4 separate regions of the Homo sapiens genome follow, and regions 1, 2 and 4 are each reported to be linked to region 3. Evidence: microRNA targets listed by miRTarBase, many of them from high-throughput screens and not tested one by one. Region 3 holds a microRNA gene; each other region holds the end of a gene's coding sequence. Distances are between the middles of the regions.

The links. Region 3 holds the annotated microRNA hsa-miR-5697 (UCAAGUAGUUUCAUGAUAAAGG, at 3,976-3,997, shown strand). A microRNA usually pairs through its seed, bases 2 to 8, with sites in the 3' UTR of a target mRNA and lowers its output. Matches are read on the target gene's strand: a 7mer-m8 pairs with bases 2 to 8, a 7mer-A1 pairs with bases 2 to 7 and ends in A, and an 8mer does both.
Region 1: miRTarBase lists EPB41L3 as a target of hsa-miR-5697. Seed matches in the 3' UTR shown: 7mer-A1 at 2,872-2,878.
Region 2: the mRNA of FAXC is a reported target of hsa-miR-5697. Seed matches in the 3' UTR shown: 7mer-A1 at 3,602-3,608.
Region 4: the mRNA of PLPP3 is a reported target of hsa-miR-5697. The part of its 3' UTR that is shown has no 7-base or 8-base seed match.

Annotation. Positions count from the first base shown.
Region 1 is chr18:5,387,986-5,395,482 of GRCh38, reverse strand. EPB41L3 (erythrocyte membrane protein band 4.1 like 3) reads left to right here. Exons shown (of 23, transcript NM_012307.5): 21 at 336-416; 22 at 690-806; 23 at 2,005-3,097. The coding sequence ends at 800. Among named protein-coding and RNA genes, the nearest start is that of ZBTB14, 96 kb to the right of the region's middle. RefSeq lists an enhancer at 1-50.
Region 2 is chr6:99,274,808-99,283,082 of GRCh38, reverse strand. It overlaps FAXC (failed axon connections homolog, metaxin like GST domain containing), which reads left to right. Exons shown (of 6, transcript NM_032511.4): 6 at 1,630-8,275. The coding sequence ends at 1,919. Among named protein-coding and RNA genes, the nearest start is that of FAXC, 71 kb to the left of the region's middle.
Region 3 is chr1:9,963,415-9,971,689 of GRCh38, forward strand. MIR5697 (microRNA 5697) reads left to right here and starts at 3,967; the gene lies at 3,967-4,044. The region is part of intron 1 of NMNAT1 (nicotinamide nucleotide adenylyltransferase 1); the gene reads left to right.
Region 4 is chr1:56,489,387-56,497,239 of GRCh38, reverse strand. It overlaps PLPP3 (phospholipid phosphatase 3), which reads left to right. Exons shown (of 6, transcript NM_003713.5): 6 at 564-2,479. The coding sequence ends at 689. Among named protein-coding and RNA genes, the nearest start is that of LINC01767, 78 kb to the right of the region's middle. RefSeq lists enhancers at 2,505-3,163, 6,344-6,843.

The DNA.
Region 1 (7,497 bases), not on the chromosome of region 3:
GCTGCAAGGGGAGCTTTTACAGCCCCTAGATTTACGATGCACTTGTCCTCACGTGCGAGTTCCCCTTTAGGAATATACATTCTGATATCCTAAGCTTAATGCTTACTCCAGTGCTTGGCATGTGGTAGTGTTCCAGAAACATGGGCCATCCAGACCCAAGGGCCTCCATTCCGTCCTCACCTCTGGAATTAAAAATGTGAAATAAGTGCCATAGAACTCTAATTTCAATTCTCGAAGAGTGAATGATGTCAGCATCTTCGGCCATTTCCCCCTACTGAACCATGATGGTTTCTCCCAGTGAGTAAATTCATAAAGCTTCTCTACGTGTCTTGCAGACTGTGAAAGGGGGCATTTCAGAGACAAGAATTGAGAAGCGAATAGTCATCACGGGGGATGCAGACATTGACCATGACCAGGTAGTGTGTGTGAGACGGTAAATACCCTGGCAGAGAAACAAAGAAAAACCTGTTGGTCCTACAGTTTCAATGCTATTCCTCTAGTCCAGCATGTATTCCGAAGAAAATTCCGAATTAACTTTCCAATATATGATTTATGATTCCTTTTGTAATCATTGTACCTCATTTGTAAATTGTGGATATAGATCTAGCTCATAAGTCTCCACCTCACCACTGATCATGCATGTTCCACCTCCTTTTTGTTTCTGCCCTTCTGTGATTTCCCGGGGATAGGCGCTGGCTCAGGCAATTAAAGAGGCCAAAGAGCAGCACCCTGACATGTCAGTGACCAAAGTAGTGGTCCATAAAGAGACAGAGATCACACCAGAAGATGGAGAGGATTGACCAGAGGTAAGAGGTGATGCCGATTCTCTAGGCTTGCCTAGGCTGGCATGAGGCATGGGGCACTTCCCTCTCATCCTTCACCTGATCCCTCCTTTCCTCTGTTCTCTCACTGGCATTTGTTGGGCTGGTTACCAAGAGGATGGAGAATTGGTTTATGGGTTTGTCTCACATTTGGAGCTTCCATTCTTGTGGAGTTTTTGCATGCACTGCCAGTTAGAGGATAAAGGAAGAGCAGAGTCTATGCTTCTATGCTTGTGTGGTCTTCCTGGTGTTCCCTTTTATTCCATGGCCTGCACTCTTTGATTATCCAAATTTGTAATGGCAAATTTGATTTTACTTGCCATGTGGCCTAATTGGAACAAAGGCAGTTTTGCTCTGAGAGGCTCAATTTGTGTGTTCCAAATACTAGGGAAATAATATATACCCCTTTCTCCTTCTGATGGCAACATTATCCCGTCGTAAGCTTTCTCTTCAACTGTGTTTGATTGTAACCTGTTTATGCTTTTGTCTTTAGTTTTGTTTTTTTAATTTGAAAGCTGAGCACTCACTTTCTTTTTGGATGTCTTATATTTCCTGTATTCTTTGGGATGATTTTTCTCCCTAGCGTAGCACTGTCTCAGAAGGAGGCAAAAAAAATGCAGTCTTGTGGTCCTGTAGAAAGCACATACCTTTCCAGTGACTGTTTGGCCAGCATCATGAGCAGACTATATCATCTATGTGAGCACAGACTTGTCATGCATAGTCACCTGCCATGCAAGATCTCATGGGGCCATGAGCGTTTCTGAGAGGGCTTTGAATGCTGAATGCAGCAGTCGAGCGACTTGCACAACTTGGTGATGTGATAAAATGTTTAAGAGATTTCATATATTAGTAAGTTTTCTAACATCGGTTTAAGAAACAAATTGATGAGTGGCATCTCTTAAAAGAGAAATATAAAAAATACTCATTTTACTCAAATGAATAATATATTTTGGACGATAGCAAAAAAAATAAAACAGATTTCTTCCATGAGCTTCAGCCACTTGGGCGTTGTTGTAATTACTTAAGAGAAAGCATGTAATTGGCAGTGACTTAACGCTGGAATGTCATGGCATCTTGTCCAAACGAGCATTCTAACTTCCAGGATACTTTTTTTGTGTCCTTGATCTGAGAAAATCTTTCAGTTGTTTTCAAATGAGTAACTAATCAAATGTCTTTTTTGCAGGAATAACTTAGCTTGCACATGAATGCAGTCATGCAAACCGTTAGGAAAACCAGAGCCTATATGGAGTTCCCTCTTCTAACCCAACTGACTTGTATCTGTCCGTGGAAAATTTCAGTCCAGAAGAATTGACCTTGACCATTAATAAAGACACTGGCAGAGAGATCTTCCCATAATAAAGCAATCTGATTCAGCATCACTAAACCGATAATGCATGAAGCAACGATAAAATTACAAAAGAGCAGCATTTTTAATTTTCACAAAATGTCTCAGTTTTCAGCTATACCTGCACGTTCATAACCAACAATATAAACCGTGGTCTCATGTAACACATAAACAATTCATGCCTTTCATAGTTTATTATTATTAAAGTCTAAACAAAATTGCAATTTCTTAGGTAACCTTATATTTACAATAAATGAAGATTACCCTCAAATGCTAGAAGCTGTCTAGGTCCGTCCGGTGTGTCAGATTTTCCTCAGATTAGATGTGCCAATAACCAAGTTTATTCAGTAAACAACTTGTACTTGTTTCATCTGGTTTTATTACTCTCACCCATAAACAGTAATGACTCTCTGACCCTCTGGAAATATGTAATGCTTCCAATCTTGCTTTGTGTATCTCATTTAATTTGTTATAAGGTAGTACTGATTTTAGCATATTAATGCGATTTCTTCCTTGTTGTTTGCTTTGGTCTGTGTTCAATCCAGAGAGCTTAAATTGTCATTATTTTGGGAAGAAAACCTGTATTTTTGTTAGTTTACAATATTATGAAATTTCACTTCAGGAGAAACTGCTGGGCTTCCTGTGGCTTTGTTTTCTTAGTTACTTTTTCCGTGCCGTGTATTTTTTAATTGATTTTTCTTCTTTTACTTGAAAAGAAAGTGTTTTATTTTCAAATCTGGTCCATATTTACATTCTAGTTCAGAGCCAAGCCTTAAACTGTACAGAATTTCCACTGTAATTAAAACTATTTAGTGTTAGTTATAAATAGCCTTCAAAAAGAGAGATTCTCCATTACACGATCACCTGCATCACAGCCCATGGTGAATGTATGTTTCTGCATAGCGAAATAAAAATGGCAAATGCACTGAAAGCTCTAAGTTTGTATGTTTAATAATTTCAGTATTGTATGTGTTTAGTCCAGAAGTAATATTTGCATGACATCAAAGGCCTTATTCAGCTGCACGGTAGAGATATCCTGTCTTTACAAGATTGAAAAAAAAAAACCCCACAGAGTATACAGTATGCAGTGTCTGTACCCTTTGAGGGATTGAAGATGGGAACAAAGCAGATATATTTAAATATTTGGTTGCCTAAGAAGGCTTTAAAAAATACATCATTGAATCTCATCCTCAAAGTTTTAGGTTTTTTTTTTAATAAGAGACAAGGCTGTGCTATGAAACAGGGTTGCTCAGCCTGCAATCTCATGACCTGTTTTAACAATCACTGTCCCCGTCATCCATTTCCTTCGTTATATCCATCTCTTCCCAGCACATCCATTGCTCTGTTAAGTCAATGTCGACCCTAGTTGTTTTAAAAAATCAACATGGAGTCTGGAGTGTGAATTTGAAGTTGCTTCTAACTTACAAATGAGTGTTACACGTTCCTTCCATTAAGTGCTTTTTTTTTTTTTTTTTTTTTTTTTTTTAGTCTTTCTTACTGCTTCAAATTAACCGGTATGGAAGTTTCTGCCTTGGGTTGCCATAGAGGTGGCCCTGTATTTTAATGGGCATTTACTCATGAAGTAAAATTGGACTGTTCCATTTAAAAAAAAAAAAATTGTGACAGGCCATCGGTGCATGTAAAATTGTGTTCTCAGAAATGACATTTGTTTTGACAAATAGTTTCTTATCAGAGCTGTGTAAGCTCTGAAGGAGGGTGACAGAAGGACCTGATCCTCCCCCATGAGTGTGGCTATTAACACACGCATGCATGCACGCATATGCTCTGCTCAGGAAATGGGGATGGGACAGCAGAAAGACTGGCTCCGAGGGGCTTTGTCGTGCCCTATCTCGACATCACTCCACTGTTGCTGGTACAGAACACCGTCATGTGGTTTAATGCCACAAAATTTCAGGGACACTAAAAGACATCTAACTTGATAACAAGAGGTCAATTCTAAGAATAAACCTTACAAAGAAGTAGCTATGAATAAAAACAACATTCATATGGGTGTTCTGTTCATCCTATTACATGAGTCAGAAACCTGGGAGACTTGGGCACCAGTGTCTTTCTTGCCCATCATTTTCCCAGCCTGCCAATAACATTTCTTCACAGTCTCTTTAATCTAGCCAAGGCAGTGTACCTAGATTATTCCAGTAGCTCACTGACTCATGTTCTCACATCACTTCAGTCCCTTACACTGTAGCTTGCAATCTTTCAAGAAATACAAATGTAATCTTCTCATCCTTGTGCTTAAAATGTGTTTTTGGCTTTCTATCGCTTGTAGTATAAAGACCTTAATTTTTTTTTCTTCAACTTTTAGATTCAGAGGGCACATGGGCAAGTTTGTTGCATGGGTATATTGCATGATGCTGAGGTTTGGGGTATGATTTAACCCAGCACCTAGGTAACGAGCATAGTACCCAATAGACAGTTTTTCAACCCTTGCCTGCCTCCCCCATCTCGTAGTCTGCAGTGTCTATTGTTCCCATCTTTGTGTCCACGTGTGCCTAATGTTTAGTTCCCACTTATACATGAGAACATGCAGCATTTGGTTTTCTGAATCTGTATTAGCTCGCTTAACAATAATGGCCTCCAGCTGCATCCATGTTGCTGCACAAGATGTGATTTTGTTCTTTTTTATGGCTGTGTAGTATTCCATGGTGTGTATGCAGCACATTTTCTATCCAATCCACCATGGGTAGACACACCTGGGTTGATACCATGTCTTTACAATTGTGAATAGTGCTGTGATGAACGTATGCATGCATGGGTCTTTATGGTAGAATGATTTATATTCCTTTGGGCATATACCCAGGAATGGGATTGTTGGGTTGAATGGTAGTTCTATTTTTAGTTCTTTGAGAAATCTGCAAACTGCTTTCTACAGTGACTGAACTAATTTACCTTCCCACCAACAGTGTATAAGTGTTCCCTTTTCTCCACAGCCCACCACGATTCTGGTTTTTGTTTTGTTTTGTTTTTGTTTGTTTGTTTTGAGACGGAGTCTTACACTGTCACCCAAGCTGGAGTGCAGTGGCACCATCTCGGCTCACTGCAACGTCTGCCTCCCGGGTTCAAGTAAGTCTCCTGCCTCAGGTTTCTGAGTAGCTGGGATTACAGGTGCGTACCACTCATGCTGGGCTAATTTTTGTATTTTTAGTAGAGACGGGGTTCCACCACATTGGCCAGGCTGGTCTCGAACTCCTGACCTCAGGTGACCCGGCTGCCTTGGCCTCCCAAAGTGCTGAGATTACAAGAGTGAGCCACTGCGCCTGACCTTTTTTTTTTTTTTTTTTTTTTTTTTTTTTTTTTTTTTTTTACTTTTTAATAGCCATTCTGAATGGTGTGAGGTGGTATCTCATTATGGTTTTGATTTGCATTTCTCTGATGACTAGTGATGTTGAGAATTTTTTCATACGTTTATTAGCCACTTGTATGTCTTCTTTTGAGAATTGTCTGTTCATGTCCTTTGCCCACTTCTTAATGGGGTTATTTTTTGCTTGTGGGTTTATTTAAGTTCTTTATAGATTCTGGACATTAGTCCTTTGTCAGATGCATAGTCTGTGAATATTTTCTCCCATTCTGTAGATTGCCTGTTTACTCTGTTGGTAGTTTCTTTTGCTGTGCAGAAGGTCTTTAATTAGGTCCAACTTGCCAATATTTGTTTTTGTGGCAATTGCTTTTGAGGACTTAGCCATAAATTCTTTGCCAAGAAAGGCTTCAATTCTTCTAACCTGGCCCGAAGCCTTGCATGGACTGGCTGCTCCCCACCTACTTCTCCAGCCACAGATGCAACAGTGTGTCTGCTTACTCTGTGATCCCTGTCCGCCTCCACCACACTGGTGAAGTGCTGGAACTATTCTCAGCCCTGTTTTACTGGGCCCCAAATTTTGTTATAGGTTTGAGCTCAAATGTTCCCTTCCTGATTTTACAGATCAGCTTTCCCTATTATACACTCTCAAAGCAACATTTTTAGTAGAAAATTTCATGATTGTCATTTTTATTTATCTGCCCAATTCTTTGAATGAATCTCTTCTGCGTGCCATGGGTCTCACAGATGGCCCACATCCAAGCATAGTGCCTCCATAAGTGGTGCTCAATATTTGTATGAATGAATGAACACATTGATAAAGGTTACTTTGCTAAGATAAATTTGAAACATCAGTTTTTTTCCGAGTTTTCTCTGAAGCCCAGCAAGTGTGGGGGAGTGGCTCCCCATGGAAACAGTTCCTATTTCAGGTCCCTCAACAGCTCTCATGATTATGCCATTGTCATTGAGTCAGTCACTGGGAATCACCCCCTCAGCAAATGATGGTCTCTCCCAGAGATCTGCCATTCATTAGATATGACGGGTTGGGTTCAGCTCTCTGATTAGAAGGGGTTACACATTATTTCACATGTACTGATGTCAGCCTCAGTTCAGTTGACATCCGGTCAAGGTCTGTTATTGTTGAGCTCTAAACTTTAAGTATATTTGAAAGTGGTCTTGGAAGCTGGAGTTGCCCTATTTCAAAGAGTCGAATAGTAAATTTCACTAGATACACCATTTGTAGATAATGGAAGTCTTAACCACTTCATAATATCTTTCTTTCTCAAGTTCATTAATTATTCAGTCTTGGCATAGCAGAGGTAAGAGAGTAAGTAATACAGGCTTAAAACCCTGGGGTTAGTTTCAACTCCTTTATTTCCTTTGCAGTGTGAAAGATCCATTACATGTAACCTTCCTTTACCATCCTACTTTAAGCCCTCATATCTCTCACCTGGACTGTTGATCAGCTGCTAACTGGTCTCTAGGTTCCATTCATCTACTACTACCACCCCACCCCAATGCCCCCTGCTCCCCACACCCCAAGTTCTTTAGGCTGCTCATTTGTCATTCTTAAAGGTGCCATCATGACACAACTAAAAAATCCTTTGGGGATATCCCTCACTCATTCCCTAAGGCTCAATTCTGAACTCCTAAACTTGAGTTAAAACTACGTATCGGCCAGGTGCGGTGGCTCACGCCTGTAATCCCAGCACTTTGGGAGGCCGAGGCAGGCAGGTCACGAGGTCAGGAGACCGAGACTATCCTGGCTAACACAGTGAAACCCCGTCTCTACTAAAAATACAAAAAAATTAGCCGGGCATGGTGGCGGGCACCTGTAGTCCCAGCTACTCGGGAGGCTGAGGCAGGAGAATGGCGTGAACCTGGGAGGCGGAGCTTGCAGTGAGCCGAGATCGCACCACTGCACTCCAGCCTGGGCGACAAAGCAAGACTCCGTCTCAAAACAACAACAACAACAACATTAAAACTACATATCCTGTATCCCACCTTTCTTTCTGCCA
Region 2 (8,275 bases), not on the chromosome of region 3:
GATAGGGGATTCATAAAGACAAACTGAAGCTATGGTACAGCCATATAACATAGTGTGCACTTATCACTGTGATCAGAGTGTGACATTCAAAGATTTTTATTATACGTTGTTAAGTGGAAAAACATAGGATAGGAAAAAGAATATATAGTAAATCCTATATAGCACATGTAAATATATGTAAATGTATATGTAAATATGTACCTTTCTGGAAGAACATAAATGAAAATGTTATGGGGAATGCGATTATTGGTAATGCTTTTATTTTTTGCTTATCTGTTTTTTCTAATTTTCTGCACTAAAACATGGATTGTTTACACAATAAGTGAATGTTTATATAACTCAAATCCAAAGACATTCTTAGAGTAATAATGTCCTATAAGAGATAGTAGCAAATCATATATTTATAAGCAATGTTGCCATCTGCTGGATCACAGGGAGAAACTCACCCTCTTTCTTTTTCATTTGGAATTAGGAAATGAAGGCCAGGTAGAGTGGCATGTTTCAGACAAATGCCTAGACAGTAATAGTGACTTAACACAAGAGTTCTTTTGATTCACATAAAAAAGAAGTAATCTAGTGACCGAGTGGGACCCGGATCCTGAGTACCGCTGTTCAATTTCATGTAAAAATTTAAAAATATCTTATACTAAGTGTGTTTGCAGGCACACTTATCCATAAAGACAATTCTGAGTTATCCATTTTATGGATTTTTTGGGGGGAAAGGTTTATGTCCTAACATAACTTTTTTCAGCTGCTTGGCATGGTACTCAGCCCACAGCAACACTGCGAAAATTTGTGGAGTAAATGATTACTTCTGGCTGACTTAATGCAACCAACAGTTTGACGTATTTTTATGGAATATAAATTAATTTATATATGAACCAATCACAGCATTAGCTCTCTTGATATGTAAACATAAAATAATAAAATGCTTCCTAAAGCCAAATGATGGTAGTTTATCTGCCATTTTGGATAAACTACCTTGCCACTTCTCATCATCATCGGACTCACTTCTTCATTTCATTCAGCACACTCACTGAATGTAACTTTTCTCACTCACCGTTTTTATTATGTGCATAAAAACCTAAATATTTTCACAGTATCTCTATGGAAAAATACTGTTAATGTTTACCTTCCCCGTTATTCCAGTTTCCCAGAAAGCCTAGTGGCTGGATGTCATAGTTTGGGCCGCTGTTGCAAAATGCCATAAACTTGTTTGCTGGTAAACAAGAGGAATGTATTTCTCACAGTTGTGGAGTCTGGAAAAGTCTGGGAAATGCAGGATCATGGTGGGAAATGCAGGATCACGACTCTGGCCCATTCAGGATCTGGCGAGGGCCTGCCTGGGGGAGGGACCACTTCCTGCTTCCTGGACACAGTGCTGTCTTGCTGTGTCCTCACATGGTAAAAGGGGGAAGGCAGCTCTCTCAGGCCTCTGTTATGAGGTACTAGTACCACGAATGAGGGCTTGGGCCTCATGAACGAACCACCTCTTAAAGGCCCCACCTCCTTAGACCATCACATTGGGAGTCAGGATTTCAACATTGGAGTTTTGGGGCAACACAGACCATAGAAGTGGTAGACTGCTGCCTTTGAGAACTAATCCTTGCTTTCCTTACCACACTGCAGGTGAGCTGATCAACCTTGCCATGTACTGTGAGAGGATAAGGAGGAAATTTTGGCCAGAGTGGCACCACGATGATGACAATACCATCTATGAGTCTGAGGAGAGCAGCGAAGGCAGCAAAACCCACACCCCGCTGCTGGATTTTAGCTTTTACTCAAGGACAGAGACCTTTGAAGATGAGGGAGCAGAAAACAGTTTTTCCAGAACCCCAGACACAGATTTTACTGGACACTCACTCTTTGATTCGGATGTGGACATGGATGACTATACAGACCACGAACAGTGCAAGTGACGTCCAGCCTCACTGACCCTCTTCCTTGGGACCTGCCACTCCCTGGGTCGGTCCATTTTCCCAGGTAGCAATCCATCCGAGCTGGGAGGAGATCTTCGTGCTTGGCAGAGTTTTCACATGCTAACTGGACTATAGCAGCCTTATTTCTTTTTTGTACAAACAAAACACAGAACCATTCAGATGACTCCATTGAAAACAAACAGGCAAAAAATAATGTCAGCATGGTTCCTGAAATCCATTTTTGTTTTCATTAGAAAACTATTAATAATATTGTGTGGTAGAGCAGGTGTAAGAGCTGGTTGTCAGCTGATAGTTTTTATGATGATCCTCTTCAACCCTGAGGTCTTAATTGTGAGATGGATTCTTGAACCTCCTTCCTCCACCAGGATTTGAAGTAATGAGAGATATCATCAGAAAAATGTTTTACGGTGGCTGCTTGTACTTTATGTGTGTATATTGTATGTTGAGACATAAGTCAAATAAAATCCACAGATATTAAACGAACACCTACTATGTGCAAAGCACTGTGCTAGGTGCTAATCAGTATACATTTTATTCTAAGCCCTGCCAGTGACTAGCTGTGTGATTTTGAGCAAATCTCTTATTAACTATTGGGTGCCTCATTTCTCCCACCTGTAAAGTGGGGATGACAATACTCTCCACCTACCTACCTCACAGGGGTGTTGTGGGGATTCATGTGGTAACATTCGTACGGCGCTTTAAACCTCTTAGAAGTGGTGCGACATAAACACAGCATTTTATTCTTTATTGCACTTCATGCATGTGAAGATTTGAGGGCAAAGGAATTCCATATCCAGGCAACCACCACCACAGTCACCTGCAAAAGCTGAGCAGATGAAATACACACAAAGGTACACTTAGGACTTTGTCATGATTCCTTTCTGTAATCTTGGCTGAATCAAAATCTTTTGTTCAAAGAACATTGGAAATGTTTTTACAAATTATCGACAGCTACAAACAGTCTTCAATTCTACCATGTATTTGCAGAAAAGTGGTTCTTTCATTGCCTGAACTCACCCTGGCATGTTCTGTGTTGACTCCAGAGTGTTACGTTGCCTATGTTTGATTTATTTGAGAAGAATAAATCTCAGGTATATGGCAGGTTTCATAGAGTTGAAGGGAAAGTATTTCATTGATTTTTATAAGCAGAAGCCTGCCAACTTGTAATGTCTTTTTGAAAACAAACCTTGCAAAGATGTATTGAAAAGATGAAGTAGCAAGAGGATACTTGTATCAAAGCACTCTGTGCAGTGTTAGACTATATGCAGTTTTATTAATGCAACTTTTCTGGTGTTTTCAGCCACTGCCCAGTGAGAGGAGAGCAATGCTGAGAACAAGTCTTAATGTTTTTGCTGTCTCATCCCCGTTCTCTCTCTCTTTCCCTATAGTATTCGATGAACTGTTGGCTTACCCATATTTGTGAAGGCACCCTATTTCTAAAGATGAAGTTGTTGTTGTTGTTGTTGTTTTGACTTAGGACATTTTCCAGGGAAATATGGGGCAGAGATCCTGGGTGATGGCTGTGAGATTTGGGCTAGGAGAGCCAAGATTTACAATTGCAAACAAAACTGCTTTGCTTCTGACCAACATAAGGATTGCTCATTATGGGGTTAAAGAGGCACTTCTTAAAATACAGCAACTTCTGAGAAATCCATGCACTTTACTTGAAAAAAAAAAAACCTCTTTTTGAATATAGCATTTGCAAAACAATCTTAAAAGACTGCTGTAGATTCACAAAGAGGTAAAGGGAGGAGAGTTTTTCAGACTGCTTACCACTTAAGCAATTGTGTAGGGCATATGTAACTGGGAATACGTGCTGAGATACCCTAAGTTAGAAATTCTTATTCCATGGGAAACTTAGTTGTTAATATCTTATTAAAACCATTCTTATTTAAAGGGACTGTTTGATGCCTAATAAGAATGTGGTGGAGAAGATATGAATGGATAAGCCTGTTTGAGGCTGCAGCATCATTTGGGAGGACTGTTTGCCTCCCCTCTCTCTAGCAAGTGTGTTTTAAGGCCAACTGGTGGCATTTCTGTGTGACTAGGGAGACTCCTGGACTGAAAATATGAATATAATGAACAGGTGGACTGCAGACCTGTCTCCACAAAGCATGGGTTGTCCTTTTCCCACCACATTTTAGTAGAAAAGAAATGTATTTGAATTTTTTTCTATGAACAATCTATCTTACTGTACAGTACCAAGTGTGATGTATTTTCTCTCAAAGGATGATTAAGTTATGAGAATGTAGATTAATATATGTTTTTAATTTTATATTACTTGGAATACAAGTATGTGGAGAACCAACTTTGAAAATGAAGTTGTAAAATAAGTCATTCCATCCAGGTACCTCTTACAGGGGCATGAATGGACATTGCTATCTGGAGTCTTGGGCAATTGCCTGACAGCATATAACTGGGCATCAACATTTTGTAGGTGTTAATTTGATTTAGAGCCCTAGAATATGCCCCTGCTTTACTTTCCCAAGGCGGGTTATGCAAACAAAATAACCAAGACAAAGTCACCATAGTGTGAGTCTTTATCCGGAAGGATTTAATTTTATGTGCTTCATTCTTAAGCTACCCAGATTTGAAATGTTCTCCAATTTCATGAACAGGTGCTAATTATAGGAAAAAACTATAAGAAGTTAAGGGACATTTTGGTCATCTGGCTTCTTGTTCAAGTTCTGTGTTTCCTTTTTGCTGGAAGGTAACTTGAAGTATGTGATCTTTAATGTTAACAGATGCTTTTGGTTGGACAACAGACCCATAGGCTATTCGTTCTTTTTTTCCTGTCATTGTAAAAGTAAATCAAGCTCTTGCATCCACCTCTCTTTGCCCATCTGTACCCCCACTCAACAAGATTAATGAGCAGAATCATTGAGCTTTACTCTCCATCAGAACAGATATAAGGACAATCTATATTTATGCAATGATGAACTATATTGTCAGCATTTACCAATTTGTTGTTGTTACATAATGAATTGTAGAAAGTGACACTACCAAGGCTGTGGGCTACCCAGGAGACTAATCACGGACCTGGAACAACTTGGACTTGAATCAGACTGCAGTCTACTCCTCAAGTGAGCCCTGCCCATGTATACTGTGGTGTTAGGGTATATTTTTGTGAAATAGCTAAGGTTCAAGGAACAGACATACTAAGGATTTTGGCCTTGTGGGTCTTGCTTAGATTTGTTTGAGAGATAATGTAGAGTCATAGAAATGTATAGCTGTGCTAAAAATTAGCTGTAGAAAGCACCTTATTGGCTCAGTGTCACATACATACTTATTTGAAGGGCAGGACCAAAAACTGAGGTCAATATGGTTCTTTCCATTACACCACGTTGCCCTTGATGGTTTCTTTCTATTATACCACCTTGCCCTTGATGGTTCTTTCCATTATACCACTGTGGCTTTGTTGTCTTATAAAATGCATGTTACCTGAGAAGTCACCCTGTGTTCAGACAACCAGCACATCTCCAGCCATTCCCTGGTTGGAATCCTACTTCGCTTTTGTCCATGTCCTGTCAGCCTGGTCAAGACCAATACAAGAGACCTCTCATCAGTGCAGGGTATTGCTAGACTCTGAAGAATAGCAAGATGGATTCCCAAATCACCAAGACTCCTCATACTTCCTTATGTATCTTTTAAAGAACCCATGTCCATTCCCTCACTTGCTGAATATTTACAGAGCACCTACCCTGTGCCTGGCCCTGGGATCTACACTGGTTGTAGAGTGGCAAATAGAACAGCATAGAACTCTGATTTCAGGGCATCCTCTTTTGCCTAGACTTCTCTAGCCTCTTTTACGTACTTGGCCATTTCCCTGTTCCATTCCATCCACTACAAATGGATTAATCTTTCTAAAAAGCTCTTTGGCCCTGATGGGGTGTGGCATTGCCTCAGGGTGAGGGGCTACTCCTTAGGGTCTGGTGTTTTCACCTTTGTTCACCTTGTCTCCATAGCTCCTCCATGGGAGCCATCCAGTGCAGCCAGGTTGATCCATTTGCCATTGCCTAAAAAAGCCTCATGTGGCCCACCTCTGTGCCTCTGCTCATGCCAGTCCTTCTCCTGAAATGTTCTATTCTCTGCTCCACTGGCCCAAGTCATGCCCATCTCTCAAGGTCTGACTTCGTCAGCTTCACATGAAGGCTTCCCAGCTGATTATAATCTCTTCCTTTGAAAATGAAGCACTCATCACTTCCTTCCCTGAAGGTTGCATGGGAAAGATGCTCAGAGAGTGAGTCACATACCATTAAATAGTGAATTTTCACTTTTTGTTTGTCAGGAACTCCACTGATAATCCAACGAAAGTTCTATACCCTATTCCCAGAAAAACACATATATGCAAATACATAAAATGTTACATATAAATTCAGGAAATTTAGAGACCTCCTGAAATTATCCATGGTTTCCTCAGGGGGTTAATGGACCCCAGTTAAAGAGTCTTGTTCCCAAGAGTCTTTAAATGTTATCATTGTGTTTGTTCTTGTTTTTAACACAGCCAGAGAGAAGAAAAATTAGTACAGGCTATGCAAGCAAAAGTAATCTCTATTATCCATGTTCAGTATGTCTTGAGTGACAGAAAAGAAGAAAGAAGTGCTCTTAGGTTATTTGAGAAAATTTTGTTTTAGAGGTTTGGAATTTTGAAAGTCATAGGATTTTGTTGTTGTCCTTGTCATTTATCTTTTAACCACCCCCAAAATTGATTTATCAAAATGAGTTCAGGGCCAAGTGCGCTTCCTTTCAGCCCTGAAACCCACCGCTTCTGCATGGATAGGGCAACCAGCCTGGGCTGAAGGTGGGAGAGAAGAGGCTGGATTTTTCTTCCTTAAAGAAGAAAGGTCTGCACAATCAGGTTTTCCTGTATTCATTTATTCATTCATTCATAGAACAATTGTTGAGTGTATTTTCAATAAAAGGTTGGTGGCTTTTGTTGATAGGGAACAACTCAGGTTATTCTTCTTTCTTTCTTTTAGGGTTTTTTTTTTTTTTAAACAGAGTATGTTATTTTATTGTTCCTGACTATGACCCAGGATCCTTTGTTCTCCTTTATATGCAGTGCTATTTAAGTCAAACTAGAACTGATAAAAGTACACTCAATGACGAATACTTCCCAGGCTAAATGCTGGGCTCTGGGAACCCATCTTTAACAGGTCCAGGGATCAATTGCATGTGATTGTGAAGTGCTTGACCTTTATTCAGTTGCTTCCAGTGGTCTGGATATAACTTGGGAAGTTCAAAAGGATTCCCTTGTTGGGTGAGGAGGGACGGGCCTCTTACCTGTAAGACTCTTGCTACTGTCAGGCGTGGATGCGAACATCTGTGGCATGTTTTCCTCATCTGAATTCCTTACCCAGAAACTCAGATTTTTGGTCCCTGACTTTCAAGAATATCTTAAGGATATTTAAGTTTCCTTAATCTTTGAGATGAGACTGCTGGAACCAGCAACGTTAGCCTTGCCAGTTAGAGATGATTACAGAGGGCACTGAAGCATAGATTTAAAAAAAAGGGGTTCAGCTGTTTTGGAGCTGACAGGGTGACCTCCTCAACCATTCTGCTTTCGCCGAAGCAAGGAACTTGTCCCCAGACCTAGACCCTCTAAAACTCCTGCTATTGGCTGGACCATGACAAACTAGGATGCTCAAATTTCATAAGGATGATTGCCTTAAATTGTAAAATTGGTAGACAAATAAAGGGGACCATTGCAATAATAAAACGAATAACCTACAGATATGGTCTAGCAGCACCAAACTGACCATTTCAGTAGGAAAACAAGTAATCTGGAGTAAAAGATGGATACGGTACTTTGGTGTTCTGTACACAATAATTTTAGCAAAGAATTTAATGGCCATCATGCATTTTTGAAACAATCCACTAACCATAAAGCAATATATGTGTATCATAATCAGTTAACTTTATAAAAAGTTGTGCTACTAAATGTGACTAATTCACCTCCCACCCCCCATTGGCATGCATTTATTTTTATTTATTTGTTTTTATTTGTGGCTCTGGAATAGAGTAACTTTCACTTATTAGTAATGCTTAAGCTTTTTTCCTTATTTAATACCTTTTTTGTTTTTAGTTACCCCATGGCTTCTAAAAAAATAAGATCCAACTTCTGAATTGCCATGTTAGTTAATGGTGGCTAAACAGATAGCAAAGGGAATATAATATAATTGTTCATTGAGGGCTAAAAAAGAGGAATGCTCTGAATATTTACTGTCTTCCTCCTCTTTAAAAAATAATCAATGACTTTCCTCTTCCATTGTTCAGAATCAGAAATGTTCTTTCGTATTTGCTTCTCTTCTACAAGAGATTATATTTGGCTTATT
Region 3 (8,275 bases):
TTTTTTTTTTTCCAAGATGGCGTCTTGCTGTGTCCCCCAGTCTGGAGTGCAGTGGCACAATCTAGGCTCACTGCAACCTCCATCTCCCGGGTTCAAACAATTATCCTGCCTCAGCCTCCCGAGTACCTGGGATTACAGGCGCACACCACCACGCCCAGCGAATTTTTGTATTTTTTAGTAGAGACGGTTTCACCATGTTGGCCAGGCTGGTCTCGAACTTCTGACCTCGTGATCCGCCCACCTCAGCCTCCCAAAGTGCTGGGATTACAGGCGTGAGCCACCGCATCTGGCCCCCATTATTTCTTTTTTGAGATGTTTGTAATAGTGAAAAATTAGAAAAACCTAAATATCCAAAGGTCGAAGATTAACTGGAAAAACTGAATTAACTATAGATTATCATTTGGAACATGCTAATTGCTTTTGGCCAAGTTATTTTTTTGCAGTGAGAATCAAATGACAATGTGTATGAATTTTATTTTATTTTATTTTATTTTTGAGACAGAGTCTCACCCTATCACTCAGGCTGGAGTGCTGAGGCGTGATCTCAGCTCACTGCAACCTCTGCCTCCTGGGTTCAAGTAATTCTTGTGCCTCAGCCTCCCAAGTAGCTGGGATTACAGGCACCAGCCACCACACCTGGCTAATTTTTATACTTTTGGTAGGGATGGGATTTCACCATGTTGGCCAGGCTGGTCTCAAACTCCTGGCCTCAAGTGACCCACCTACCTCGGCCTCCCAAAGTGCAGGGATTACAGGTGTGAGCTACCACACCGGGCCGAAAGTATTTTTATAAAGCCAGGTGTGGTGGTTCACACCTGTAATCCCAGCACTTTGAGAAGTGTAGGTGGGAGGATCACTTGAGCCCTTGGTCTTGAAATCCTGGGCTCAAGCAATCCTCCCACCTCCACTTCCCAAAGTGGGAAGCAGAGCCTGGGCAACAAAATGAGACTCCTTCTCTACAAAAAAATAGAAAGATAAGCTGGGTGTGGTGATGTGTGCCTGCAGTCCCAGCTACACGAGTAGCTGAGGCAGGAGGATCCTTGAGCCCAGGAGATCGTGGCTGCAGTGAGCCATGTTCAAGCTAAACCTCCCAGCTTTCCCAGCCTGGGTGACAGAACAAGACCCCGTCTCAAAAAGAAAAAATAAAAGTATTCTATACTTTTGTTTTTGTAAACCAAAAGTAGCATATAACTATTGATGTGTTTATTGTCATTTGCTATATTTCTATGTTAATTATAAAAATGCTTCAAGCGGCCAGGCACGGTGGCTCATGCCTCTAATTCCAGCATTTTGGGAAGCCGAGGCAGGCGGATCATGAGGTCAGGAGATCAAGACCATCCTGGGCTAACACGGTGAAACCCCATCTCTACTAAAAATACAAAAAATTGGCCAGCATGGTGACGCACACCTGTAGTCCCAGCTACTCGGGAGGCTGAGGCAGGAGAATCACTTGAGCCAGGGAGGTAGAGGTTGCAGTGAGCCAAGATTGTGCCACTGCACTCCAACCTGGGCGACAAAAAAAAAAAAAAAAAAAAGCTTCAAGCTCTACAAAAAATTCCCCAAAGTTTTGAAAATACTTTGAGCAAGATTATGTCACTGGAATTATATTTATAAGATCTCAGGGCCAGGTGTGTTGGCTCATGCCTGTAATTCCAGCACTTTGGGAGGCCGAGGCGGGTGGATCACCAGGTCAAGAGATCAAGACCATCCTGGCGAACATGGTGAAACCCTGTCTCTACTAAAAATACAAAAATTAGCTGGGTGTGGTGGCGTGGGCCTGTAGTCCCAGATGCTCAGGAGGCTGAGGCAGGAGAATCGCTTGAACCCAGGAGGCGGAGGTTGCAGTGAGCTGAGATTGTGCCACTGCACTCCAGCTTGGCAACAGAGCGAGACTCCATCTCAAAAAAAAAAAAAAAAAAAGATCTCAGAATGATTATTTTTAAGACATTCTTTGGATATATAAGAATATTTATTACTTTTTAATTTTTATATTATTGTTGTTATTTTGAGACAGAGTCTCGCTCTGTCACCCAGGCTGGAGTGCAGTGGTGCAGTCTCGGCTCACTGCAACCCCTGCCTGCCAGGTTCAAGTGATTCTCCTGCCTCAGCCTCCCAAGTACCTGGGATTACATGTGTGCGCCACCACACTCGCTAATTTTTGTATTTTTGGTAGAGATGGGGTTTCACCATGTTGGTCAAGCTGGTCTTGAACTCCTGACCTCAAGCGATCTCTCTGCTTTGACCTCCCAAAGTGCTGGGATTACAGGTGTGAGCAACCGCACCTGGCCAAGAATATTTATTTTGAAGTCCAAGCACAGTAGCTCATGCCTGTAATCCCTTTGAGAGGCTGAGGCAGGAGGCCAGGAATCTGAGACCCACCTTGACAACATAGTGAGACCCTGTCTCTGCAAAAGATTTAAAAAATATAGCCAGGTGTGGTGGCATGTGCTTGTGGTCCCAGCTACTTGGAGGCTGAGGCAGGAAGATCATTTGAGCCTAGGAGGCAGAGGCTGCAGTGACCTGTGATCATGCCATTGGACTCCAGCCTGGGCAACACACCGAGATCCTTTCTCAAAAAAAAAAATTTTATTCAGAAGTATTTGGCTGGGCACGGTGGCTCACGCCTGTAATCTCAACACTTCGGGAGGCTGAAGCAGTCAGATCACTTGAGGTTAGGAGTTTGAGACCAGCCTGGCCAACATGGTGAAACCCCGTCTCTACCAAAAATACGAAAATTAGCCAGGCATGGTGGGGCATGCCTGTAGTCCCAGCTACTTGGGAGGCTGAGGCAGGAGAATCACTGTAACCTGGGAGGCAGAGGCTGCAGTGAGCTGAGATCGTGCCACTGCACTCCACCGTGGGCAACAGAGGGAGACTCCATCTCAAAACAGAAAGAAATTATTTATAAATATTATTGACCGGGCGCGGTGGCTCACGCCTGTAATCCCAACGCTGTGGGAGGCTGAGGCAGGCAGATCACCTGAGGTCAGGAGTTCAAGACCAGCCTAGCCAACATGGTGAAACCCCATCTCTACTAAAAATACAAAAATTAGCTGGGCATGGTGGCAGGCACCTGTATTCTTAGCTACTCAGGAGGCTGAGGCAGGAGAATCGCTTGAACCCAGGAGATGGAAATTGCAGTGAGCCAAGATTTTGCCACTGCACTCCAGCCTGAGCAGCAGAGTGAGACTTAGTCTCAAAAAAAAAAGTATGTATATATAATTATATACAAATATTTATTTGAAAACCTTTACAATAGCAAAGTTATTTTTTTAACTTGTTGAAAACTAGTAGGCAGCATTTAAAAGGTTCTGTACAATGAATGAAAAAGATACTGTCATCACTGGGCATTCCAGAGTACTAGGGATAAGATAATATACTACACATCTTCTAGAAAGTAAAAGCAGGTTACACATAAAGGAACAAGGATTAGAATGACCTCAGACTTTCAACAGCAATGTTGAATGCCAGCAAACAATGAAGAAGTGCCTTTATAATCTTAAAAGAATAATTTCAAAAATTATTTGGGCTGGGCACAGTGGCTCGAGCCTGTAATCCCAACACTTTAAAAGGCCGTGGCGGGCAGATCACCTGAGGTCAGGAGTTCAAGACCAACCTGGCCAAAGTGGTGAAACCCTGTGTCTACTAAAAATACAAAAATTAGCTGGGCATGTTGGCAGGCATCTATAATCCCAGCTACTCAGGAGGGTGAGGCAGGAGAATTGCTTAAACCTGGGAGGCAGAGGTTGCAGTGAGCCAAGATCTTTCCACTGCACTCCAGCCTGGGTGACAGAGTGAAACTAAGTCCCCCCGGCTCCCCGCAAAAAAAAAATTATTTGAAATTATTGAGTTGAAAAGAATTTTCTCAAGCCATTAATAATTGAAGGAAGAATAACAACATCGTCGAACTTACTTGATCTCCCATGCGCCTATCAAACTTACTTGATCTCCCACGAATCCTACTGGAGCATATTCTCAAGTAGTTTCATGATAAAGGGTGTATGAGAGATCAACCCTTTATCATGAAACGCTTGAGGATACGCTCCAGAAAGATTAGAAAGCAAAGCGAGAAATAAATAGGGGATCTAACCCAGGAAAGAGATGAAGAAGTTTTCAGAATAATAGCTTCACAAATAGAGATTTTTCATCTGGATAAGAGGAGGAGAGTTCCAGAAAGAAAATCCTCTGGGAAAAAAACAGATTGAATAGAATAGCAATTGTAAATTAAACCATTTGAAATTGATGTTTTGTTGATTAAAAAAAAAATTGCTTGCTGAGCACAGTGGCTCATACCTGTAAGCCCAGCACTTTGGAATTGGCCAAAGTGGACAGGTTCGCTTCGAGATTCTGAGCCCAGGAGTTTGAGACCAGCCTGGGCAATATGGCAAAACCCCATCTCTACAAAAAATACAAAAAAACAATTAGCCAGTGCATGCCTGTAGTCCCAGCTGCTTGGGAGGCTGAGGTCGAAGGATCACTTGAGCCTGGGAGATGGAGGTTGCAGTGAGCTGAGATTGTACCACTGTACTCCAGCCTGGACAACAGAGTGAGATACTGTCTCAAAAATCAAAAAACAAAAGACAATTCTAGTAACATAATTTGCAACATTCATAATAGCTATATTCATAGCATGTTTGCTATTTGCCAAATGTAGTTTTTTTTTTTGTTTTTTTTTGAGATGGAGTCTCGCTCTGTTGCCCAGGCTGGAGTGCAGTGGCACGATCTTGGCTTGCTGCAAGCTCCGCCTCCTGGGTTCACGCCGTTCTCCTGCCTCAGCCTCCCGAGTAGCTGGGACTACAGGTGCCCGCCACCACGCCTGGCTAATTTTTTTGTGTTTTTAGTAGAGATGGGGTTTCACCATGTTAGCCAGGGTGGTCTCGATCTCCTGACCTCGTGATCTGCCCATCTTGGCCTCCCAAAGTGCTGGGATTACAGGCGTGAGCCGCCGCGCCTGGCCTGCCAAATGTAGTTCTATGTCTTGGATCTGTATTGTTTCATTTAATCCTCACAACAATCAGGAGGTAGGTAGTATTATTTTCTCCTTTTTAAGATTGATTAAAAACTGGGACAAGGTGGGCACTGTGGCTCATGCCTGTAATGCCAATACTCTGGGAGGCCGAGGCAGGTGGATCACTTAAGGTCAGGAGATCAAGACCATCCTGGCTAACATGGTGAAACCCCGTCTGTACTAAAAATACAAAAAATAATTAGCCAGGAGTGGTGGCGGGCACCTATAGTCCCAGCTACTCGGGAGGCTGAGGCAGGAGAATGGCATGAACCCAGTAGGCGGAGCTTGCAGTGAGTCGAGATCATGCCACTGCACTCCAGCCTGGGCGACAGGGCGAGACTCTGTCTCAAAAAAAAAAAAAAAAAAATTAGCCAGGTGTGGTGGCACGTGCCTGTAATCCCAGCTACTTGGGAGGCTGAAGCAGGGAGGATTGCTTGAACCTGGAAGGCAGAGGTTGCAGTGAGCTGAGATCGTACCACTGCACCCCAGCCTGGGTGACAGAGCGAGACTCTGTCTCAAAAAAAAAAAAAAAAAGCCAAAGAAAAAACCTGGCACAAAAGGAAGGTTAAGTTAGGGTTAGGTTGCCCAAGGTCATGCCGTTGGAGCTGCAATTTGAAGCCAGGCAGCCTAATATCAGAGCATAGGCTCTTAACTCTTCTGTTATATAGGCGGGAAATTGTAGGATACTTTCTTGTAGAGTCTGACTAATCCAAGCAAAAAGACCTGCGGTACTGACAGGTTACTGAACAGTTATGGCCCCTGTGCACAAGCCCTACCTACCCACTCAGCCTGTCCCATCAGCTCTTTTTGAAGAAACTTTAAAATATATCATGAATATTGGTAGAGAAATAGAGATGATAATCTGTTGGGGAAATGAGTAGAATACCATAAACAGGAGTATTCAGAGGATAGGGCTCTTGGAAATTAAGAGTGTAATGGCAGAAGTGAAAACTAGGCAGATTGGAGGATGAAGTTGAGGCTATCAGGAAATTAGAGCATGAAGGCAGGAGGTGGAAAATACAGAAAAAATGATTAGATGCTTCAGCTCTAAATAATAGACATTTTCAGGCCAGGCACAGTGGTTCATGGGCGGCTGAGGTGGGTGGATCACTTGAGGCCAGGAGTTCGAGACCAGCCTAGCTAACATGGTGAAACCCATCTCTACTAAAAATTCAAAAGTTATCTGGGTGTGGTGGTGCATGCCTGTAGTCCCAGCTACTTGGGAGGCTGAGGCAGGAGAATTGCTTGAACCTGGGAGGTGGAGGTTGCAGTGAGCTGAGATCGTGCCACTGCACTCCAGCCTGGGTGAGAGAGGGAGACTCTGTCTCAAAAAAATAAATAAATAATAGACATTTCAAAAGAACAGATAAAATGGGAGGCAGAAAATCATCAATGAAAGAACTCAAGGACATTTTCTAGAACTGAATGTTACAAGTTTCCAGACTGAAAGGACCTGCTTGCCCTGTGCTCAGCATGATGGATAGAAACAAAGCTGCACTAGAGGACAGCACTGTGAAATTTCAGAACACTGCGGACAAAGAGAAGACCTTACATGCTTCAAGACAGGAAAAAAATGACATTCAAAAGCTCCGGAATTAGAAGTGGCTTTGGATTTCATGCTATTAACATTGGAATCTAGAAGTAATGCCTTTGAAGTTGTGAGAGAAGATGATTTTCAACATAGTCTGGAGATAAACTATATTGGGCAGTTTGGGAGAAGGTAGTCAAAGGGTATGAGGGCTAATCTTTATAGATCATAAAGTCAATGGGCACTGTTATAGTTGGATAAATTAAGAAATGGCATTATAAGCACATAATGTAGAGTTATGGTAGAAACTACCAGAAGAAATAGCTGAAAAAGTTAAAAGTGGTTGGATGGAAGGGATGATGAGTGGAATATGATTGATGGCTGTTGGTTTTCATTAAGGGCCTTTTTTACCCTGTGATGTTCTAGATCTATATATATGAATTAGTTGAATAAGAAATTTTAGGCCAGGCGCAGTGGCTCACGCCTGTAATCCCAGCACTTTGGGAAGCTGAGGCAGGCGGATCACAAGGTCAGGAGATGAAGACCATCTAACATGATGAAACCCCGTCTCTACTAAAAATACAAAAAATTAGGCAGGTGTGGTGGCAGGCACCTGTAATCCCAGCTACTCGGGAGGCTGAGGCAGAAGAATGGTGTGAACCTGGGAGGCGGAGCTTGCAGTGAGCTGAGATCGCGCCAATGCACTCCAGCCTGGGCAACAGAGTGAGACTCCCGTCTCAAAAAAAAAAAAAAGAAATTTTAATAAAAACCTAAAATTGGATGCCTTATGTTACTTCATTAGGGTTATGGAAGGATCAGTGGAATAACTGATATGAAAAAGAGGTTTGTAAATTATATTCTATTATTTAGTGGAAAGTTATGATGTTACTATCATGTTGACTAAAAGGCAAAAATGCTGTATTTGGTAGATGATAATATTGTTGTATTAATTAACTGTGGCCACAATAGTGCAATCACAAAACTTGAGTGACATATGATAATGAACACTAATTTTTTGTTTTTGAGACTAGGGTCAGCTTGTTGGCTTGACGATCTGAGCCAGGTTTGGTTGATCTCACTTGGGTTTGCTTATGTGTCTGAGCAGATGGACTGTAGTTGGCTGGTCGGGGATGGCTATGTTCCCCACATGTGGGGTGGTTGTCTATCAGTGGGAGCATCGGTGCTCTCCCACATGTTCTGGCATCCTCCACACTAACACTTGTGCCACATTCTTTTGCCCAAAGCAAGTCAAAAAATGTGGAGAAGTCACTTCCATCTCTTCATGGTAGAAGTTGCAGATTCACATTGAAAAGGAGGGATGGAGATGTGGAAACATTTTTAGAGTTAGCATAATGATTGAAGCCAATTTTTTTTTTCTTTTTGAGATGGAGTCTCTCTCTGTCGCCAGGCTGGAGTGCAGTGGCACAGTCTCGGCTCACTGCAACCTCCGCCTCCTGGGTTCAAGTGATTCTCCTGCCTCAGCCTCCCAAGTAGCTGGGATTACAGGTGCCTGTCACCACACCCAGCTAATTTTTGTATTTTTTGTAAAGACGAGGTTTTACCATGTTGGCCAGGATGGTCTTGATCTCTTGACCTCATGATCCACCCGCCCCAGCCTCCCAAAGTGCTGGGATTACATGTGTGAGCCACCACGCCCAGCCAAAGCCAAATACTTTTAATCCATCTATTGGGAATGAGAATGTGGAAGGACATCAAAAGACCTATAACTGGGCTGGGCG
Region 4 (7,853 bases), 47 Mb from region 3:
GTTTAGTTGCCAACTTTCTCAGCAACGAGAACCTGGTTTCTTGACCCCCGTCAAATGGTTGATATCACTAAGTTTTCAGGAAAAAGTAGTTACCACTGCCTGACTTCAGCTCTTGCTGATAGGAGTTCATGTTGGCTGATCTTTTTCGGTTACACCCTGGATTCCTTTGTGAGGAAAGGGAAAGTAGTGTGAATTAATGACTATCACTAATTATGACCTGCTTCCTTTGTTGAGGAACTTATCTTTCATTGCTATTCGTTTGCCTTGAGAAATAAGGAAGTATGGGTTGCAGATATGGGCAATGGACTGAGAGTCCTTAGAAGTGGATTCTACTGAACCAGTGTTGTGCAACCTGGGACATGTCACTGCCTTTTCCCGGGTCTCAGTTTCCCTATCTGTACAATAAACCTTGATGATATGATCTCTGTTGTCCTTCCCTATTCAAAGAGTTATGATTTGGGGCCCCTTTTCCTGAAGTCTGCGCTCCTCTGACCTTCCTTTTCCCTCTGTACCCAGACCCCCGATGTCAGTTACTGACTTCGATCTCTGATTTGTGCTTCTAGGTTTTCTTCGTGTCTGACCTCTTCAAGACTAAGACGACGCTCTCCCTGCCTGCCCCTGCTATCCGGAAGGAAATCCTTTCACCTGTGGACATTATTGACAGGAACAATCACCACAACATGATGTAGGTGCCACCCACCTCCTGAGCTGTTTTTGTAAAATGACTGCTGACAGCAAGTTCTTGCTGCTCTCCAATCTCATCAGACAGTAGAATGTAGGGAAAAACTTTTGCCCGACTGATTTTTAAAAAGGAAAAAAAAAATGTTTTACTATGTGGCCTTCCAAAATAGGTAGTGTTTGCCTATGTGGAAACAACAGCAAACTAACACCAAGTGCCAGAGTCCTGGATGTGCAATTGGTTTAAGTGTTCATGTTCTAGTGAACACAGCTTGTTCAGGAACAAACACTAAAACGATTTGAGTAGAGGCTGCTGGTCACCTTTTGTGACCTGAGGAATCCCAGGCCTGTGAGAAAAGCAAAAATTCACATTGCAGCACATGATGCCAGAAATAGCACTGAATCAAGAAAATAGCCATTGCGGAGCTGCCCTCTTGAGTCTTTCTGTCCATCCCATTCTATTCTGTACTGTGACTTTAGTTCAGGAAGTTTTGTTTTGTGTTTTAAATAAAAGGAAAGAGCAAGTTTGCTCAGTCAAGTGATCAGATCCCGAATCTAGATTCCCAGTTCTAAGGCCTTATCACCTCCCCTGCCCATAGGCCAACAACCATAGTTCCTCACATTAGTGATTAGCAGACTCTTTGTGGACGAGTGAATTTCACAAACAGCACAATTTCAGAAGAAATCGAGGGCACAGGCCCTCACTTTTCTTCTTTTGACGCATCATCCTGTGATGTTGAAATGTCAATTGCAGGATGCTGATGTTGTGCACGTCAATCACCGGGCACTTGCATACTCTTAGAAACAGTTCGACTTCGGTTACTGCCTTCTCCCTTGAAATCCTTGCTGCGTGCCCACCAGGATTTCCTGTGAGGGCCCAGGAATGAGCAAGGCATGGTCTGCCACCAGCTGACGGAAAGCAGCCTTCTGTACAACAGATGGGAGGGTGAAGGGGGCAGAATGAAAATCGAACCAACCTTTTAGCTGTTGCAAATCAGAAGGAGCCAGAGAAGCAGGCAGTCTCATGCATGAGAGGTTACCCTTCAGGATGACAGAGCTGAGGGTCTTTGTAGGAGTTGCTCTTGCTGTGTAAAGCACTATTGTCTTGGGGTTGAGCCCTAGGGCAGTTCTTGGTAGGTTCTGCTGGGCAGAACATATGGGTTAAATCTCGGTAGAGAGTTTCCCTCATCCTCTATCCGTAAGTGTCCTTCCATGCAAGGTCCCACTCTAGGTGATAGACAGGGACCCCTTCTACTGAACCTTTGAGGAAAGGAGGAAGGAAGAAATGCGTTTAGATCTTGGATGCAGACCTTTCAAAGGGTTAAATGTAACCATATGGATCAACCACATGCACATCCTTACTACAGAATCCGTCCTTTCATTTCAACTTATAGCAAGCTATGATTTTTATATATAAATATTATATAAATAATGTATAAAACATTAAAAGTTAACTATGTAAGATATTATTTCTGAAACAATTTAGCTATATCCACTATGATTATAAACTGTGTCTCGACCTGTGTTATTTACATTAGCTGCTTAAAAAAGCATTGAGTTAATTTTTTTAAATATCAACTAAAATATCATAGTTCTGTGGTAGACATTGTTTTATAATGAAATAACTGCAACTAGAGAAAACTGTATAAAAACATTAAATTGTCAGTATTTTTGTAAGGTTCCATTTTGTAAAGAGAATAATATTCAAAGACTTTTGTAGCATACAAAGTGAAAACTTGTATCTGCGAAACTATACTTGTATTAAATGTGCTTTTTAAATAAAAGCTCGTAACACAACTAATTAAGGACTTGCAAGCCTGGAGTGTTTGAGAGATGTTTGTCTCAGGTGTGTGGGTAGGAGAAGGAAGCATCGCGGGCTGGCCTCTTTGAGTGGGCTTGCCTCATCTCAGCGCACCAACTCCTGATTTTTTTCAGTGGGAAATGTGGTGGTCATAGGGTAGATACCGATGTCTGCCCTGCTCTTTCATCTCTGAAAGCCTGTTTGCAGAATGAGGCCCTGGCTCTACCCTCATCTCAGGCTCTTCTAAAGAGCTTTTGTATTCTAAAGAGGATTTTTCCATCAGAGAGGTAGGAGCTGTAGGAACCCCGAGGGCAGATAAGCAGCCCTCACTCTAGATAAGGTATGCTGGGGGAGCTTACTGAGGGAATCCTGTACACAGCCCACATCAAAGGAAGGCTGAGAATGGCCTGTGGCTCCTGCTTCCCTTCCTTGTGTTTCTCCAACCTGGAAGAAAAGGGGAAGCTAGAAATTCACATTTATTGAGCACCTGTGTGCCAGGGATTTCTGCCTATTTGTTCTGTCTGATCTTCACAGCAGTTATTTTGAGAAAGAAAGAATACTAAAGAATGCAAAGATGAAATGATTAGTCTAAGATCCTAGAGCATTAAATTGTAGGATAGGTCTTATATTAATTTGCTATAGCGGCTATAACAAATTACCACAAACGTAAAACAGCATAGATGTATTGTCTTACAATCTTGGAGGCTCTAGGCAAGAAGCTGTTTCCTTGCCTTTTCTGTTTTTAGAGGCCACCCACTTTCCCTGGCTTGTGGCCCTCTTCATGTTCACATGGAGGAAGCAACATTGGGTAGAGTCCTCACCCTGCCATCTCTTTGGTTCTCCTCTTCTGCCACCCCTTTCACATGTAAAGGCCCTCCTTGCTGATTACACAGACCTGCTCATAATCTAGGATAATCACCTATATTAAAGTCAGTTCACTGGCAAACTTAATTCAATCTGCTGCCTTAATTCCTCTTTGCCATGGAACATATATTCACAGATGCCAGGGATCTAAGACATGGCCATATTTCGGGAACCATTATTCAGAGTACCAGAGTTCACCCTCTGGCCCTCAAAAGATTCACATCCATCCCAAATGCAAAACAGATCACCCTATCCCCACATCCCCTAAAGACCTAGGATATGGCAGTATCAAGTCAAAATCCTAAATCTTAACAACTTAAACACCCCAAATCTCATCATCTAAACTAACCCATTCAAATTAGGTAAAAAGGAGGCTCCATGTTTAATCCACCCTGGAATACATTGCTCTCTATGAACCTGTGAAAATTAAGAAACAAGTTATCTGCTCCCTAAATTCACTGGTGAAACAGGCATAGAATAACAGTTATAGACATTCCTATTTAAAAAGGGAGAGAAGCCAGGCGTGATGTTTCACTCCTGTAATCCCAGCACTTTGGGAGGCCGAGGCAGGCGGACCACGAGTTCAGGAGATTGAGATCATCCTGGCTAACATGGTGAAACCCCATCTCTACTAAAAATACAAAAAAATTAGCCGGGCGTGGTGGTGGGCGCCTATAGTCCCAGCTACTTGGGAGGCTGAGGCAGGAGAATGGCGTGAACCCGGGAGGGGGAGCTTGCAGTTAGCCGAGATCCCGCCACTGCACTCCAGCCTGGGCGACAGAGTGACACTGTCTCAAAAAAAAAAAAAAAAGGAGAGAGAGAGAGAAATAGACGGAAAAAAGAAGTCATCAGTCCCCAGCAACTTCAAAATCCAGCAGGGACCAGGCATGATGGCTCACTCATGCCTGTAATCCCAGCACTTTGGGAGGCCGAGGCAGGCAGATCACTTGAGGTCAGGAGTTCAAGACCAGCCTGGCCAACGTGGTGAAATCTCATCTACTAAAAATACAAAAGATTAGCTGGGTGTGGTGGCACACTCCTGTAATCCCAGCTACTCTGGAGGCTGAGGCAGGAGAATCACTTGAACCCAGGAGGCAGAGGTTGCACTGAGCCGAGATTGCACCACTGCACTCCAGCCTGGGCAGTGGAGTGAGACTCTGTCTAAAAAAAAAAAAGGAAAGAAAAATCCAGCCAGGGATGCTCCATTTGGCTTCAAGGCCTGGAAATAGACCCAAGTGGCTCATGTCTGGTTTCTTGCCACCAAGGTCAGCCTGCTCTTTGCTGCTGGACAATGCAGTCCCCTCCAGCCCCTGGAATAGCTCAGCAATTTCACAGCATTTTTATATAAGTGGTGATGTCCGTTTGAGCCCCAAAATGTAGCTAGTAAGATCCTTAAGGCCAGAGGCCAAATTTTCACTTCAAATCTGAAGAACCAGTGTCCAGAGGGGCAGAACAACTCTTGTTGGTGGGGGTAGGAGAGGGAAGGCACCCAGGGAGTGGAGGGACTGGTGAGACCAGAGCCCAAGCCTCCTGATCCGAGTACCCCAGTCTTTCCATTTTATCTTCCAACAGTACTTGACAAACCAAACTTGAGAAGTAGCCCCGTTTCATGCGGACTTAAGGAAACAATGGAGCTGCGTGGTATTGTGAGGAGCAGCATGATGTGGAGAAGGAAACAAGGACCTGGGGACTCAGACCCAGGTTGCAGTCTTGGCTCTGACACTTCCTGGCTATGTGATGTGACTTTGGACACGTTTCTTAACCTCTCTGAGCCTTGGGTTATTGCTCGTTAAAGATGAGATTTACAAGATCTGTTTTTATACCTCTTTGCTCATGGCAGTCTGTGAGCCTTGACTTGCTTCTTTAAATGGGGTTCACGGACTAACAACATTTGTATCCCTGGGGAGCTTGGTAGAAATATAGACCTAGGAGAACCCCTGCCCCACCCCAACCTACAGAATCAGAATCTTCCTTTGGGTAGGATCCCCAGGTGATCTACATGCACAATAAGGTTTGAGAAATACCCCCACTCTTTGCTCATTAAACCTGCAGACTCTGTTCAGGTGTGCTTCCCCCAAGCCACACTCCTCCGGGGCTTGGCTCGGAGCATGCTGGGTGCAGACATCGGTAACCTCTTAGCTTAATGTACCAAAATTGCATGCATAAAGATCTGTATCAAGACTGTCAGATTCTCAGGGGCAGAAGCAAGTCTTATCCTCTGCAAATCCTGCATGTCTGCCTGGCACTGAATAGTTCCCGGCAATTTTGAACCAATTAATCATCACCCGGGTCAAAAAGTCACATGATTCTTGGTAACCATCCAATTAAACAGGCTGCAGGGACATAGAGAATTGCAAAACATTGACCCTGTCCTTAGGAATTAATGAGGACTTAAATTTCCTCTGAGGTAGAGATGGAAAAAAACAAAAACTTTAACAGCTAGAAATCTGCATAAGATTCCTGCCAGTTAGAATAAATTCGTACATTCATTCGTTGATTCCAAAGTATTTCCAAAGAACTGTTTATGTGCAAAATCCTGACGCAGGTACTTTCATGCAGTCTGCTTCATTTAAATCTTCAAAAACCACTGTTAAAGTAGATAGGATTGGGGGGAAATGAAGAGAAGTTGGTTGATAGGTAAAAAAATACAATTGATAGAAGGAGTAAGTTCTAATATTGGATAGTATATTAGAGAAATTGTAGTTAACAATAATTTATTGTGTATTTCAAAATAACTAGAAGAGAAGAATTGCAATGTTCCCAACATAAAGAAAAGATAAATGTTTTAGATGATGGATATCCCCATTACCCTGATTTGATCATTGTATATCACACACATGTATCAAAGTATCACATGTACTCCAAATGTTTGTACAACTATGATATATCAATAAAAAAATACAGAATAAAAAATGTAGCTATGAATAGTCTCATTTTACTGAGTGAGAAACTGAAGCTGTTAAGAATCTTGTTTCAGTTCACACATCTAATATGGGATAGATCTGGGATTCTGATCTAAATGACTTCAATTATCCATTGACTAATATTTATTAATCACTTCCTGTGTACCAGGCACTGGTAAACACCAGAAGTAAAACAGTAGATAAAATGGGATGCCAGCTTCGAGGAGCTTATAGTCTAAAGACGAATACAAACAGTCAAATTACAAATATGTAACTAAGAAATGGGATGAGTGTTCTGAAGAAAGAATGCAGGAGGAGCTATGAGAGCTCTCAGCAGGAGGACCTGCTATTGAGGAGGGCTTCCCTGAGACCCACCTAGAGCTAAAGTCTGGTTAGGGCACTGACCCAACAAAATGAATGAAAAGAGCCCGGCCTTTCAGGAGCCGAGAGCCTAGAATGTAGGTCTAGTAAATAATGAGTAAATAATCCCAGTAGTGTGATGGGGAGGAGGGGCCTTTATGAAGTGCTGTGACATGGAAGGAATCAGAAAGACCTGGACCTGGCCGGGCACAATGGCTCATGCCTGTAATCCCAGCACTTTGGGAGGCCCAGGCGGGCGGATCACGAGGTCAGGAGATCGAGACCATCCTGGCTAACACGGTGAAACCTCGTCTCTACTAAAAATACAAAAAATTAGCCAGGCATGATGGCGGGCGCCTGTAGTCCCAGCTACTGGGGAGGCTGAGGTAGGAGAATGGCGTGAACCTAGGAGGCGGAGCTTGCAGTGAGCCGAAATCGCACCACTGCACTCCAGCCTGGACAACAGAACAAGATACTGTCTCAAAATAAAAAAAAAAGAAAAGAAAAGAAAGACCTGGATCTGCTCCCTACCCTGTGACCCTGTGTAAGCATCCCTTCTAGAACATCTGACTCTGACAAGAAATGTCAAGTTTGTTTGTTTGTTTTTGCATAAACCCCTCTGATATGGTTTGGCTGTGTCCCCACCCAAATCTCATCTTGAATTCCCACGTGTTGTGGGAGGAAGCCGGTGGGAAGTGATTGAATTATAGGGGCGGGTCTTTCCTGCACTGTTCTCGTGGTAGTGAATACGTCTCACGAGATCAGATGGTTTTAAAAAGGGGAGTTTCCCTGTACAAGCCCTGTTCTCTTGTCTGCTGCCATGTGAGATGTTCCTTTCACCTTTCGCCATGATTGTGAGGCCTCCCCAGACATGTGGAACTGTAAGTCCCATAAACCTCTTTCTTTTATAAATTGTCCCGTCTCAGATAGGTCTTTATCAGCAGCATGAAAATGGGCTAATACAGTAAATTGGCACCAGTAGAGTGGGGTGCTGCTGATCCAGGCCTCCTGCTTTTTTATTTTTTTGAGACAGATTCTTGCTCTGTCACCCAGGCTGGAGTACAGTGGTGCAATCTCATCTCACTGCCACTTCCACCTCCCAGGTTCAAGCAATTCTCCTGCCTCAGCCTCCCTAGTAGCTGAGATTACAGGCACGTGCCACCACGCCCAGCTAATTTTTTGTATTTTAATAGAGACAGGATTTCACCATGTTGGCCAGGCTGGTCTCGAACTCGTGACCTCAGGTG